Homo sapiens: one gene and its partners. The protein of the gene in region 1 purifies or fractionates together with the protein of each later gene. This does not show direct contact. Each region holds a gene or a part of one and is shown in the gene's direction. Other genes may lie near its edges.

Evidence for each region. The genes of interacting proteins can lie anywhere in the genome.
Region 2: the proteins of COL16A1 (region 1) and P4HA1 purify together in Homo sapiens (affinity purification with mass spectrometry; one large-scale study listed by BioGRID and IntAct). This does not show direct contact.
Region 3: the proteins of COL16A1 (region 1) and LAIR2 purify together in Homo sapiens (co-immunoprecipitation; one large-scale study listed by IntAct). This does not show direct contact.
Region 4: the proteins of COL16A1 (region 1) and C1QTNF1 purify together in Homo sapiens (co-immunoprecipitation; one large-scale study listed by IntAct). This does not show direct contact.

Annotation. Positions count from the first base shown.
Region 1 is NC_000001.11:31,697,518-31,701,017, reverse strand, and holds part of COL16A1 (collagen alpha-1(XVI) chain precursor), read left to right. Parts: intron 1-902; coding exon 903-977; intron 978-1,087; coding exon 1,088-1,205; intron 1,206-2,126; exon of another isoform or gene 2,127-2,268; intron 2,269-2,411; coding exon 2,412-2,535; intron 2,536-2,845; coding exon 2,846-3,112; intron 3,113-3,500. UniProt on the Homo sapiens protein: Involved in mediating cell attachment and inducing integrin-mediated cellular reactions, such as cell spreading and alterations in cell morphology.
Region 2 is NC_000010.11:73,048,367-73,051,866, reverse strand, and holds part of P4HA1 (prolyl 4-hydroxylase subunit alpha-1 isoform 2 precursor), read left to right. Parts: intron 1-617; coding exon 618-814; intron 815-3,500. UniProt on the Homo sapiens protein: Catalyzes the post-translational formation of 4-hydroxyproline in -Xaa-Pro-Gly- sequences in collagens and other proteins.
Region 3 is NC_000019.10:54,505,831-54,508,508, forward strand, and holds part of LAIR2 (leukocyte-associated immunoglobulin-like receptor 2 isoform a precursor), read left to right. Parts: intron 1-2,060; coding exon 2,061-2,354; intron 2,355-2,678.
Region 4 is NC_000017.11:79,044,669-79,048,168, forward strand, and holds part of C1QTNF1 (complement C1q tumor necrosis factor-related protein 1 isoform 1 precursor), read left to right. Parts: exon of another isoform or gene 1-217; intron 218-1,886; coding exon 1,887-2,026; intron 2,027-2,869; coding exon 2,870-3,420; 3' UTR 3,421-3,500.

The DNA of each region.
Region 1 (3,500 bases):
TGATTCTGGCCTCTGTCTTTCCTGTTGTAGCACCTCCCCCAACACTTCTGCTCAGTCAGCCCCAGGGCGAGGGAGGCCCATGGCTGCCCACCTGTTCTTTCAGGGCTTTGGAAACCTGAGTTAAGCTATCTCCTTCTCTGGGAGCCCTAACCCATTAATATGCCCTTCCTGGAGCTCCAAGGCCCTGGTGGTACCCTTGAGCTTGTGGTCCCCTCAGACCCTCAGTCTCTTCTCGCTGTTTCACAAGGTGGTTATTCAGGTAAATATTCATTCTGTTGGCTCCTACTTGTGTCTGGCCTGCTTGTCTGATTTGGATGTAGGACGTTCCTATTGCTGAGAACACGTGTGCCAGCTGCACATGTCATCCCTCGTGGCATGGGCACCTACAACTCCCACATGTACAGACACGTACATATAATTGTACATAACACACAATGTGCATGATTCTGACATTTCCTTACCCCTGAAGAGCTCCTCTGCCCCCCACCTGGGTGTATGTCATGGAGGGGGCACATGTGTAAATACACAGCTCCCCACTCCATCTGTGCTCGAGAGCCACCTAGAGCTTCGTGTATTCTCTCCCTTGCTGGCCTAGCTCCTGACTTGGAGTGCTGGGAGATTTGGGTTCCTGGAGTTCTGGGCCTGCTCTGCTGTTGGCTCACTTAGTGACCTTGGCCTGGGCCTCAGTCTCTGGACCTCAGTCTTCCAAACTGTATGCTGGGTTGGGGGCCTCCAGGCTTCCTGGGGAGCCAGGGTCAGAAGGCAGGTGGTGAAGGCAGGATCTAGCTGATGGTCCAGAGTGAGGACTATAAACTTGCTCCCTCCCAGGTTCCCCAGGCGTCCAGCCGTGCAGCAACCTTGGCCTGAGCGCACCTAATGCCCCCCTGCCCCTTCTCTTCTAGGTGCACAATGCCCACCTTCACAGCAGGAAGGACTCAAATTGGAACACAGTAGTAGCCTGCCAGCCAACGTGACTGGTGAGCACCCAACCATCTCATCGCGCCGTCCCTGCAACCTTCCTCTGGGAGTGATCTGTACCCCTCTCCACCTGCTCAGCTGAGCTCTTCACCTGATGTCTCCCCCAAAGGCTTCAACCTCATCCACCGACTCAGCCTCATGAAGACGTCTGCCATCAAGAAGATCCGCAACCCCAAGGGGCCTCTCATCCTGCGCCTGGGGGCGGCCCCCGTGACCCAGCCCACGCGGTAAATGCATCCATGTGACCACTGAGAATCAACACTGACCTCAGCCACACTCCTCAGCAACTCCAGATGTGGGGCTTAAGCCCAGGGGCCTGTCTGTGGGTCATTGCATCCCAGCCCCTGCCAGGAGTCAACCTGGTCTCCACCCCTGGGCTTGCAGGGTGGGCTGAGAGGTGGTACCTGGCAGACCTACCTTCTGTCTTTCCCCTGTCTCTGGCCAGCAGTGGGTGGGAACAGGTCTGCATCCTGTGGGCACTGTGAGAACACAGGATGTGGGCGGGAACCTGGCAAGAGTCATGTGCGTGTGTGCATGTGTGTGTGTGCGCACATGCGTGTGTGTGCACCCATGTGTGTGAAGTCCAAATTCCCACAAGCCCTGGCCTGGCCCCTGCTTGCCTCTTCAACCTCAGCTCTCAAAATGCTCTTTTTTATCTCTTGCTGCTCTGGTCATGCTGAACCCTTTCCATCTTTTTTTCAGTATCTCTCCTTCCACCCTTGCTCCAGTTATTCACCTAGGGTATTCTGGGTTCATTGGAAGCACTTATTCAAATTGCAATGCGATAGCGAAATAGTCATTCTGGGGATTCTTTGCTCATGGCCTCCCTGCCCCCATCAGACGTGAAGGCTCCATGAAGGCAGGCAGTGCCTCTGTATTTTCACCACTGTGTATGTGGGTTTTTTGTTTGTTTGTTTGTTTGGTTGGTTGGTTGGTTTTCTTTTTGAGACCAAGTCTTGCTCTGTTGCCCAGGCTGGAGTGCAGTGGCGTGATCTTGGCTCACTGCAACCTCCACCTCCTGGGTTCAAGCAATTCTCCTGCCTCAGCCTCCCGGGTAGCTGGGATTACAGGCGCCTGCCACTACACCTGGCGAATTTTTTGTATTTTTAGTAGAGACGGTGTTTCACCATGCTGCCCAGGCTGGTCTCCAACTCCTGGCCTCAGGTGATCCGCCCACCTCGGCCTCCCAAAGTGCTGGGATTACAGGCATGAGCCACCGCACCCAGCCTTCACCACTGTTATTCCCAGCAGCCAGACCCGCACCTAGCTCGCGGAAGGCACTCAGTAAAGGTATGGAGAGTGAATGAATGTATATGATGGAAGATGTGTGCCTGTGGATGTCTTGGGTAGGCTCAGCAGTCCTGAGGGCTCAGGGTGGGCAGCATTTGGGTCCTCATTGGAGCCTCAGGGCACCCTCCCTGCTCCATCTCCAGAAGAGTATTCCCTCGGGGTCTCCCGGAGGAGTTTGCCCTGGTGCTGACACTACTGCTGAAGAAACACACCCACCAGAAGACGTGGTATCTGTTTCAAGTGACCGATGCAAATGGGTATCCACAGGTGAACCTCCCCTGTGCCCTGATTGCCTCTTAGGGCATTGGGTAGCACCAGTCCAGCCCACCTTTCATCCCGGCTTGTGACTTCTGGGGTCTCCCTGCTCCATCCTGTGCCTACCCTCAAGCCTGTCCCCAGCCCACCAGTACCTACCTCATTCTTTCAGGATGTATAGCTCCTTGACCCCAGCCGGCTTTCTTCTCTTTCTGGGCCTCAGTTCCCCTCCTGTGAAATGAGTTCAAGGTCCCTGAACGTGCCCATGGTGTGACTCTGGAGCTCTGAATCTCTGTCCTTTCCCTTTCCAAATTCTACCCAGATATCCCTGGAAGTCAACAGCCAAGAGCGGAGCCTGGAGCTCAGGGCCCAGGGCCAGGATGGCGACTTTGTGTCCTGCATCTTCCCAGTGCCCCAGCTCTTCGACTTGCGTTGGCACAAGCTGATGCTGAGTGTGGCTGGACGTGTGGCCTCTGTGCACGTGGACTGCAGCTCAGCCTCCTCCCAGCCTCTGGGGCCCCGACGACCCATGAGGCCTGTGGGCCATGTATTTCTAGGCTTGGATGCTGAGCAGGGCAAGCCTGTCTCGGTGAGTGCTAGGTCAGGCCCTGACCTCTGTTCCTGCCTTCTGGGAACCTGAGTGGGCTTCCTGGAATCCGTATCGGAACAAGTCCTTCTCCTGCTTAGAATCTTCCCCTGCTTTCCTGTTGCCCTCCAAATGCAGCCTAAACATATTCACCTGGCATTCAAGGCCCTTCATGATCTGGTCCTTATAAGTGTCTGCAGCACCATCTTCCTTTACATCTCTCCGTGCAGCTCTGCTCTGATCAATTCCATCCTAGCCATCCAGCGCACCCAGTGCTTTCACACTGCCGTGCCTTTGCCTACGCTGTTACCTCCACCTGGAATGCCTTTCCTTGCATACTCATCCGCTGAGTAGCTACCAGCCCTTCAAAGCCCAGCATGAATGGAACCTC
Region 2 (3,500 bases), on another chromosome or scaffold:
TCAAATTGAACTTAGTTCCTTTAGCTGATTAGTAAATTCTCAAAGTAAAAGCACCAGTTGCCACCTTTAAATAAATAGCTGTTTCTGTCTCCAGAACTGTCTTTTTTGAGACAGGGTTTCACTCCTTTTGCCCAGGCTGGAGTGCAATGGCATGATCTCGGCTCACTGCAACCCCCGCCTCCCGGGTTCAAGTGATTCTCCTGCCTCAGCCTCCTGAGTAGCTGGGATTGCAAGCACCCACCACCACGCCCAGCTAATTTTGTATTTTTAGTAGAGACGAGGTTTCACTATGTTGGTCAGGCTGGTCTCGAACTCCTGACCTGAGGTGATCCACCCACCTCAGTCTCCCAAAATGCTGGGATTACAGGTGTGAGCCACCAGGCCTGGCCCAGAACTGTTTTTATATAGGTGACTATATGTCCTGATTTACTTGGGGGCAGTAGTAACTTATACCTATTATTTTGGTATAATAATTTTTATTAGTGCCTCCTTTCACTCACAACAGCAACCTGGTTTGGAAGATAAATTATAATGTCTCCTATTTTTATATTACTATATTCTGATGCTTGAACAAGCATGAACTTACCCATGGACATGCTTTGTTTCTCTTCTAATAGATCCTGAACATCAGAGAGCTAATGGTAACTTAAAATATTTTGAGTATATAATGGCTAAAGAAAAAGATGTCAATAAGTCTGCTTCAGATGACCAATCTGATCAGAAAACTACACCAAAGAAAAAAGGGGTTGCTGTGGATTACCTGCCAGAGAGACAGAAGTACGAAATGCTGTGCCGTGGGGAGGGTATCAAAATGGTAAAGTGGAAAAGCCAATTGTGTGTATGTGAATGTGTGTGTGTATGTGTTTGTACACAGTTCTGGAGAGAATCAGTTATTTTATATTTAAGCCTATGTGATAAAAATCAGAATGACTGCATAAAATATTACAGTATGTCAGCTTAGGCAACATAGACCCCATTACAAAAAAATTTAAAAATTAGCTGGGCATGCTGGTGTACACTTGTAGTCTTAGCTACTCAGGAGTCTGAGGTGGGAGGATCACTTGAACCAGGAGTTCAGGGGCACAGTGAGTTATGATTACACCACTGCACTCCAGCCTGGGCTACAGAATAAGACCCTGTCTCTAAAAAACTTTTTTTTTTTTTTTTGAGATGGAGTCTCACCCTGCCACCCAGGCTAGAGTGCAGTGGCATGATCTCGGCTCACTGCAAATTCCGCCTCTTGGGTTCAAGCGATTCACCTGCCTCAGCCTCCTGAGTAGCTGGGATTACAGGTGCCCGCCACCATACCCGGCTAATTTTTGTATTTTTAGTAGAGATGGGGTTTCACCATGTTGGCCAGGCTGGTCTCAAACTCCTGACCTTGTGATCCACCTGCCTTGGTCTCCCAAAGTGGTGGGATTACAGGCGTGAGCTGCTGTGCCCAGCCTAAAAAACTTTAAAAAAAAAATTACAGTATACCATTCTCTCTCTGTGGGTGCCACATTTAATATGTTCCAATTATTAGTAAAATAGCTTTAAAATAAAGCTTGTGAATCATATACTATTACATATGTTTGGGGCAATATTACCTTTTTCATTTGATCCTTCCAGGGTGAAGGATCAAATAAGTTTAAAGGAAGTGATAGTTTTTTTTATATTTAATGCAAGAGAGATTTCAGCAGTATTTTTTTTTTTTTTTTTGAGACAGAAACCCACCCTATCACCCAGGCTGGAATGCGGTAGCGCAGTCTCGGCTCACTGCAACCTCCGCCTCCTGGGTTCAAGCAATTCTTGTGCTTCAGCCTCCCAAGTAGCTGGGACTACAGGCATTCGCCACCATGCCCGGCTAACTTTTTTGTATTTTTAGTAAAGACGGGGTTTCCTTATGTTGGCCAGGCTGGTCTCAAACTCCTGACCTCAGGTGATCCTCCCGCCTCGGCCTCCTAAAGTGCTGGGATTACAGGCGTCAGCCACCACACTCATCTGTTCAGCAGCCTTAATTAGAGACAATAACACTACTCTGTGCATCTTATGAGATACAACAGATTCATCTATACAATAATCCCTTGTAGTTTTGCTCCTAGTTAATCTTCACAAGATTGCTTAGTGAAATGCTTTAGTCTGTTTAATACTGAAAATGCAGAAAGTTTTCAACAGATTTTGTCTTTAATATTTCTTTAAAATATATCTATAAATATTACTTTGTTTATTGTATATGTATTTATAACTCAGAATTCCAGTTCTATAGATGTTAATAGATACTAGGCCAAAAGCAAAAAGAACAAAGTCTGGGGAACATTTGTTAAACAAAGTTGAACATAGGTTTTTGTTTAGCCTCAAAACTTCTCAGAACCTTTTTATGATAATGTGCATTGTGATATGATATACATTCTTTCTCAATATTAATTGATTATGGAACCTTTTGAAAAGGAATTTCATGTGGTATTAGTTTTCAGTTGAACACAGGCTTGCATAGAAGGAGTTAGTGAATTTTTGGAGTAAGTACTTTTAGGTGTAAACATTTGAAAAGTGTTTAACATTTTCTTTACTACTGGTAAACTCAAGCTGGGCTTTGCATTTCGATATTGATGACTGTTGACAGCTTAACCACTAACAGCAAAGTATACAATACGTATGGTGACACTTTCAATAGATAGGTTCATGGAGTCCTAGGAGGACATGCTTGAGCTAATGAGTAAATACAAAGATGGTGACACTGTTAGACTCATTATTTTCTTTTTTTTTTCTCTGAGACGGAGTCTCGCTCTGTTGCTCAGGCTAGAGTGCAGTGGCGCCATTTCGGCCCCTGGGTTCACGCCATTCTCCTGCCTCAGCCTCCTGAGTAGCTGGGACTACGGGCGCCTGCCACCACGCCCAGCTAATTTTTTGTATTTTTAGTAGAGATGGGGTTTCACCTTGTTAGCCAGGATGGTCTTGATCTCCTGACCTCGTGATCCGCCTGCCTCGGCCTCCCAAAGTGCTGGGATTACAGGCGTGAGCCACTGCACCTGTTCCCTCATTAAACATTTTCTTTTCTGTTTCATTACTAAATATTTTAGTATGTATCTTTTAAAGATACAAATTCAAAATAACTACAATACCATTATCACCTAAAAATTCACAAGTTTTGTAATATCAAATATCTAGTGTTCAAATTTCCGCAGTAAGCAGAAATTTTTATTGCTCTTAATAACTCTTAAGGAACAAAATAAAACTGTAGATATAAAACAAAGAGTCTGCTAATTTCCCGGTTTGTTAATGTAACACATACTCAACTTTGCCTAAGATCAAAAGAACATTCTTGCCAGGCACGATGGCTCATGCCTGTAATCTCAGCACTTTGGGAGGCCAAGGTGGGTGGATCACCTGAGGTCAGGAGTTCAAGACCAGCCTGGCCAACATGGTGAAACCCCATCTCTACTAAAAATACAAAAAGTTAGCCGAGCATGGTGGCAGGGGCCTGTAATCTCAGCTACTTGGGAGGCTGAGGCAGGAGAATT
Region 3 (2,678 bases), on another chromosome or scaffold:
TTTTTTTTGAGATGGTGTTTCATTCTTGTTGCCCAGGCTGGAGTGCAATGGCTCGGTCTTGGCTTACTGCAACCTCTGCCTCCCTGGTTGAAGCAATTCTCCCTGCCTCAACCTCCCAGGTAGCTAGGATTACAGGTGCCTGCCACCATGCCTGGCTGATGTTTTTGTATTTTTAGTAGAGACGGGGATTCACCATGTTGATCAGGCTGGTCTCGAACTCCTGACCTCAGGTGAGCCGCCCACCTCGGCCTCCCAAAGTACTGGGATTACAGGTGTGAGACACCGCGCCTGGTCTGATTTTTAAAAGTTAATTAATTCAGTTTAAAATTGACCGATGAAAATTGCATGTATTTGTCATGTCCAATATGACGTTGTGGACTCTGCACACAGCGAGGAATGGCTACATCGAGCTAGGCAACGTAGGCATTCCTCCTGTGCGAATCATTTTTTTGTGGTGAGAACGCTTAGAATCACCTGGATTAGCAATGTCCAATAATGTAATACATTGTTATTAACTGTAGTCACCGTGTTGTACATGATGATTCTTGAATTGATTTCTCCTCTCTAACTAAAACCTTGTTTCCTTTGAGGAATTTTCCCACTTTGAGTGCCCTGGTGTCCCCTGTCTGCTCAGCTCAGGGAGTTTCTACTCCTCCCTCAGCTCTCAGCTCAGAGAGAGCTTCCCCTGACTTTGCAGAGGAGGTCAGCTCCACCGCCCACCTGTCCCCTAGATCCCTGCACACTTACCCACAGGAAACTTATTGCAGTTCGCAGCTGCAGATTTGGACAATTCTTCGATCAATATCTGTCCTCCCTTCTAGACGTCCACCTCCAAAGGGCAGGCATCCTGTATGTGTTTCTCACATTTGCGGAATTAGCAGCTCATGAAAAGCGTCTTTAAACAGATTGATAAGTAACTGAGATATGGTTAAAAGAAAGAAAAATGAACAAATGGGTGGGTTTGGGGAGATGCTGGTCAAAGGATAGAAAATTTCGTCTAGACAGGGAGAGTAAGTTCAGGATTGTGTAACATAATGACTAGAGTTAATCACAATATATCATACGCTTGAAAATCGCTAAGAGGGCAGATTTTAAATGTTCTCACCACAACAATTAACTACGCAAAGTGAGGTTATATTAATTAGCTTGATTCAGCGATTCCACAGTGTATACCTGTATCAAAACATCATGTTGTACACCTTAAATACATGCAGTTTTAATTTGTCAATAATAAGGAATGAATGAAGACGGGACGAGTGAATTGAAGCCCTGCCAGCTCTCTGCCCCGCTCAGGGATTTTGCTAATTTTGACACAACCTTCCTGTTTCAGGGCGTCAAACCCGCCCTTCCTCCTCCACCCCAAGCCCAGTTGAGATAAATGGGGTTTTTCAAGAGCCTTAATAACAAGGAAATGCAAATTAAGCTGAGAAGAAAGTAGAAACTATAGAGGAAAACCCAGAGGTGGTGTCTCCACAGAGATCTGCATTAGCAATGGGGACCTGTCACGGGCTGGGCATCTGCTGTGAGCAGATCAGGGCTGGGGGCTTCACCCTCACCCCACCAGACCCTCAAAGGAGCCTGGCAACCCCCGTCCCACACTCAGTCCCACCCGGGGACCGGCCAGTGCCCTTCAGGCCCCAGCACGAGCCATCTCCAGAGCCCTCGCTTCCCTGTCCCTTGTCCTTCACGAATGACCCTGTCATCCCCATCGTGTGCCTCCCTCCCACCCTCTGTCCCTCTAGAAAGTGGCCCTGGGCTCTGCAGCAGGCATGAAGGGCTCCAGGCTGCTCCGACACTTCCCACGTGACCCTGAGCAAGGCCCAAGTTGTGAGCAAGTCTCAGGGTCCTCACTGTCAACTGGGAAAAAACTCTGCAGTGATGAGAATCACATGCACGTAGAAGGTGCAGGAGGCGTGGGAATGTTCTAAGGTTGGGCTGTGGTCGTGGCTGCATAACTCTATAAAATTGCTAAAATCCCTGAATTGTGATCCTAAAATGACGTGTGTGGCATGGTGACTTCCTACAGTGGACGCTGAGATCCTTCTTTGCTTCCCTCTTAGGGGCCCTTCCCAGACCCTCCATCTCGGCTGAGCCAGGCACTGTGATCTCCCCGGGGAGCCATGTGACTTTCATGTGCCGGGGCCCGGTTGGGGTTCAAACATTCCGCCTGGAGAGGGAGGATAGAGCCAAGTACAAAGATAGTTATAATGTGTTTCGACTTGGTCCATCTGAGTCAGAGGCCAGATTCCACATTGACTCAGTAAGTGAAGGAAATGCCGGGCTTTATCGCTGCCTCTATTATAAGCCCCCTGGATGGTCTGAGCACAGTGACTTCCTGGAGCTGCTGGTGAAAGGTGAGGACGTCACCTGGGCCCTGCCCCAGTCTCAGCTCGACCCTCGAGCTTGTCCCGAGGTCCCTGGTCCCTGTCCCGGCTGCTGTCCTCTCTCTGTGGCCACCGTTGCCCTCTTCCTGACCCCAAGCCCTCCCCTCCCCTTCTTCCTCTGCACACACCTCCCCTCTGCCCTCACACCTGCTTAGGTCCCTGGAGCCCTGATCTCCTCTGGACGCCACAGATGGCGTGGACACTCAGTCCCAGCATTGGGTTGGCTCAGAGCTGGCTCTGCTTGGCTGGGTGGGGAGTGGGTTCCCAGAGATTAGGGGGCAACCCCCCTACAAG
Region 4 (3,500 bases), on another chromosome or scaffold:
GACCTGCAATGACAGAGAGACTCCAGCCGACCTGGGACATTTCCTAGGGAAGCCGAGTGCTTCATCCAACTGCCATGTACCCAGAGTGAGGTCCTGGAGACCCGGCGACAGCTCAAGCCTGGCTTGGAGTCTCTTCATTATTTTGAGCGTTGGGCTGACTTGATACTTGAGGCTTCAGACTAACTTCAGTGTACGATGGGATTGGACAGGATTTGAGGTTGAGTCACATCATTCCGTTCTTTCTTCCTCTCCCTCCTCTTTCTTTGATTGAGCCCCTCCTATCAGTCAGGCCATCCCCCAGGCACGGGGGGACACATGAGTGGCACAGTCCTGGCCTCCAGGAGCTCTGAGGCCGAGAGGGAGATAGACACATGAGAGACAGGGCAGCGTGGTGGGCTTTGTAGTAGGGGTGTACCCATGACGCTGGAGGCAGGGCCAGGAGAGGGAGGAGCGGGTCCCAGGAAGACTGAAAGGAGTGAACTAGGTCTTGAAGGACACCTGCGGGCCTCCCAGGTGCAGAAGGAGGGGAAAGCTACCTGGTAGCCAGAATGGGGTGTGCAAAGGCATGGCTGGTGGTGTTTGTTGGGCTGGTGGGTGGTTTGGGATGGTGAGACCCAGTGCTGGAGGCTGGAGGCTGGAGGACAGTAGGGCAGTTGAGCCTGGAGGCAGCTGGGTCTAGTTGGGGAGGGTCTCACCTGAACTCAATCCTACAAAGAACAAGAGGAATCATGGGAAAGCTTGAATTGGACGGTGTTCTCGGAAGAATGCCAGAGGGAGGCAGCAGAGAGGATGAGCTGGTGCGGGGAGGGGCAGATTCCAAGTGAGAGTCGAAATGGCAGGGGTGCATCAGAGATGATGAGGGCCCTGGGCTCAGTTCTGGAGGTGCCTTTTGGCTGGGAGCCCAGGACTCTGCTGAAAGTTGTGCCAGGGGGTTGGCGGAGGGAGTCGGGGGTGATGCCGAAGGCTCCACCCTGGGCACCCGCTGTTGATGCCAGGAACAGAGCTCAGAAAGAGAAGATTCCAGGGGCGAAGGGATGGGGACAGGGGTTTCGGTTTTGCATACATGACATCTGTGGGGCCTGTTGCATCTCCAGATGGAGACTTCTGGTGAGAAGTTTGAAGTCAAGGTCTGGGGCTTAGGAGAGAGGTAGGGGTGAGATGTCCATCTGGGAGTCCTGGGCTTATGGGTAGCTGAACTTAGGGCACAGAGATCCGTTTCCTGGATAGTCTGGGGTGCAGAAGTGGGAGCAGCATTAGATGAGGAGCTGGCCCATCCAGGGGGACTTTGCTGCCCCCGTGGGTCTGCGCAGCTCTACAGCCTGGGCAAGAAGAGCCACAAGCCAGAGCACATGTGATGCCATGAGGGGCCGCGAGGTGGCAGCCAGGAGCCGCCGCCGTCCATCCTGCCTGCGGGCTTGTCCTTCCAATCAGGTTGGAAACATAAGAGTCTCTCCAGCGGCTACAGCTGAGGGGAATCCTAAAGATCCAGTTGAACCTTCTTATTTGCAGACGAGTCAGCTTCATATGTTATTTTCTAGCATCACGGATATACGATAGGGAGTCCCGGCATTGTCTTGTGTCACCCAAAGACCCTCTCTTAGAAGTGTGGATTTCTCCCGAGCAGCCCCCATCTTGCGTGGCACTCAATTGATCGCTGCGTGTGTTTCCAGGACTGTCATTGCCTTTAACAGAGGGCAGGGGGCTCGTTCGGTAGTGAGGATCCCAGAGTGGGCCGTGAGCCCACCAGCGTGAACACAGAGCCTTGTGGGTCCAGGTGAGAGAGTGAGAAGGCAGGTCAGGCATGCCAGAACCACTGGCAGCAGGAGAGAGCAGCGTTTCCAGGCCTGAGAGTGGCTGACTTTCACTGTGATTCTTTATTCCCTCAGGGCTGAAGAACAACATGAAAAATACAGGCCCAGTCAGGACCAGGGGCTCCCTGCTTCCCGGTGCTTGCGCTGCTGTGACCCCGGTACCTCCATGTACCCGGCGACCGCCGTGCCCCAGATCAACATCACTATCTTGAAAGGTCAGATGGCTGCAAAGACAAGCACGGGGTGGCCGGGCTGCTCTGTGCTGATCCGGAGGAAGGGATGGAGTCGTTAGGGTGGGGCTAGGCGAGAGCAGAATGGCTCCCTCGGGACAGGGAGCAGAGGCAGGCAGGCTGTCATCTAGAGGGGAAGGCACAGGAAATTCTGATTTTGAGGCTCTGGCCCCTCTCCAAGAGGAGGGGTTGGAAAGGGGCCCACAGGACCAAGAGCAGGAGAGGGAGCCCAGAGGCTACTCGGGGTCTCGTCCCTCCAGTTGTATGTGGACGCCAGGCTTCTAGGCCCTTTGCTTTGGGGCTTGGTCCCCCAGCCTGCTTTCTGAAATGCCACCTGCTCGCTCCGGTCCTGCACACGGCAGATAACCCTGCACAGCCCCGTGAAATCGAACTGGAAACACTTGCAGCCTAGATCCCCAGCTGGCCCCGACATCTGGAGTTCATTTGCTCAGAGCGAGCCGTCGGTCTGGCCGCAGAGCCCATTGCTTTTGGACGAACCCGTATGTTCCATTTTCTTTTTTTTCTTTTCTTTTTTTTTTTTTTTACCAGGGCTTTCCAGAAGGAAAAAAAAATTATTGCTTCTGGGCGAAAATAGAACCATCCTTGAGGTTGAGTCTGTTTGCTTGGCCATTTTGGGAATCACAATACCTCTGTGCCAGGCTGGGACGCCGCCCGTGGCAGGGGGCTGGGGGCAGGAGTGAAGCTTCTGCCAGGTCAGGGCTGTGAGGACGAATCAGGACAGCGCCAGGGACCGGAGAGTGAGCAGCCAAGGCTCAGGACACTACCGGATTGCTCCATTAACAGCACGCGTTTTCCCATCCCTTTTAGGGGAGAAGGGTGACCGCGGAGATCGAGGCCTCCAAGGGAAATATGGCAAAACAGGCTCAGCAGGGGCCAGGGGCCACACTGGACCCAAAGGGCAGAAGGGCTCCATGGGGGCCCCTGGGGAGCGGTGCAAGAGCCACTACGCCGCCTTTTCGGTGGGCCGGAAGAAGCCCATGCACAGCAACCACTACTACCAGACGGTGATCTTCGACACGGAGTTCGTGAACCTCTACGACCACTTCAACATGTTCACCGGCAAGTTCTACTGCTACGTGCCCGGCCTCTACTTCTTCAGCCTCAACGTGCACACCTGGAACCAGAAGGAGACCTACCTGCACATCATGAAGAACGAGGAGGAGGTGGTGATCTTGTTCGCGCAGGTGGGCGACCGCAGCATCATGCAAAGCCAGAGCCTGATGCTGGAGCTGCGAGAGCAGGACCAGGTGTGGGTACGCCTCTACAAGGGCGAACGTGAGAACGCCATCTTCAGCGAGGAGCTGGACACCTACATCACCTTCAGTGGCTACCTGGTCAAGCACGCCACCGAGCCCTAGCTGGCCGGCCACCTCCTTTCCTCTCGCCACCTTCCACCCCTGCGCTGTGCTGACCCCACCGCCTCTTCCCCGATCCCTGG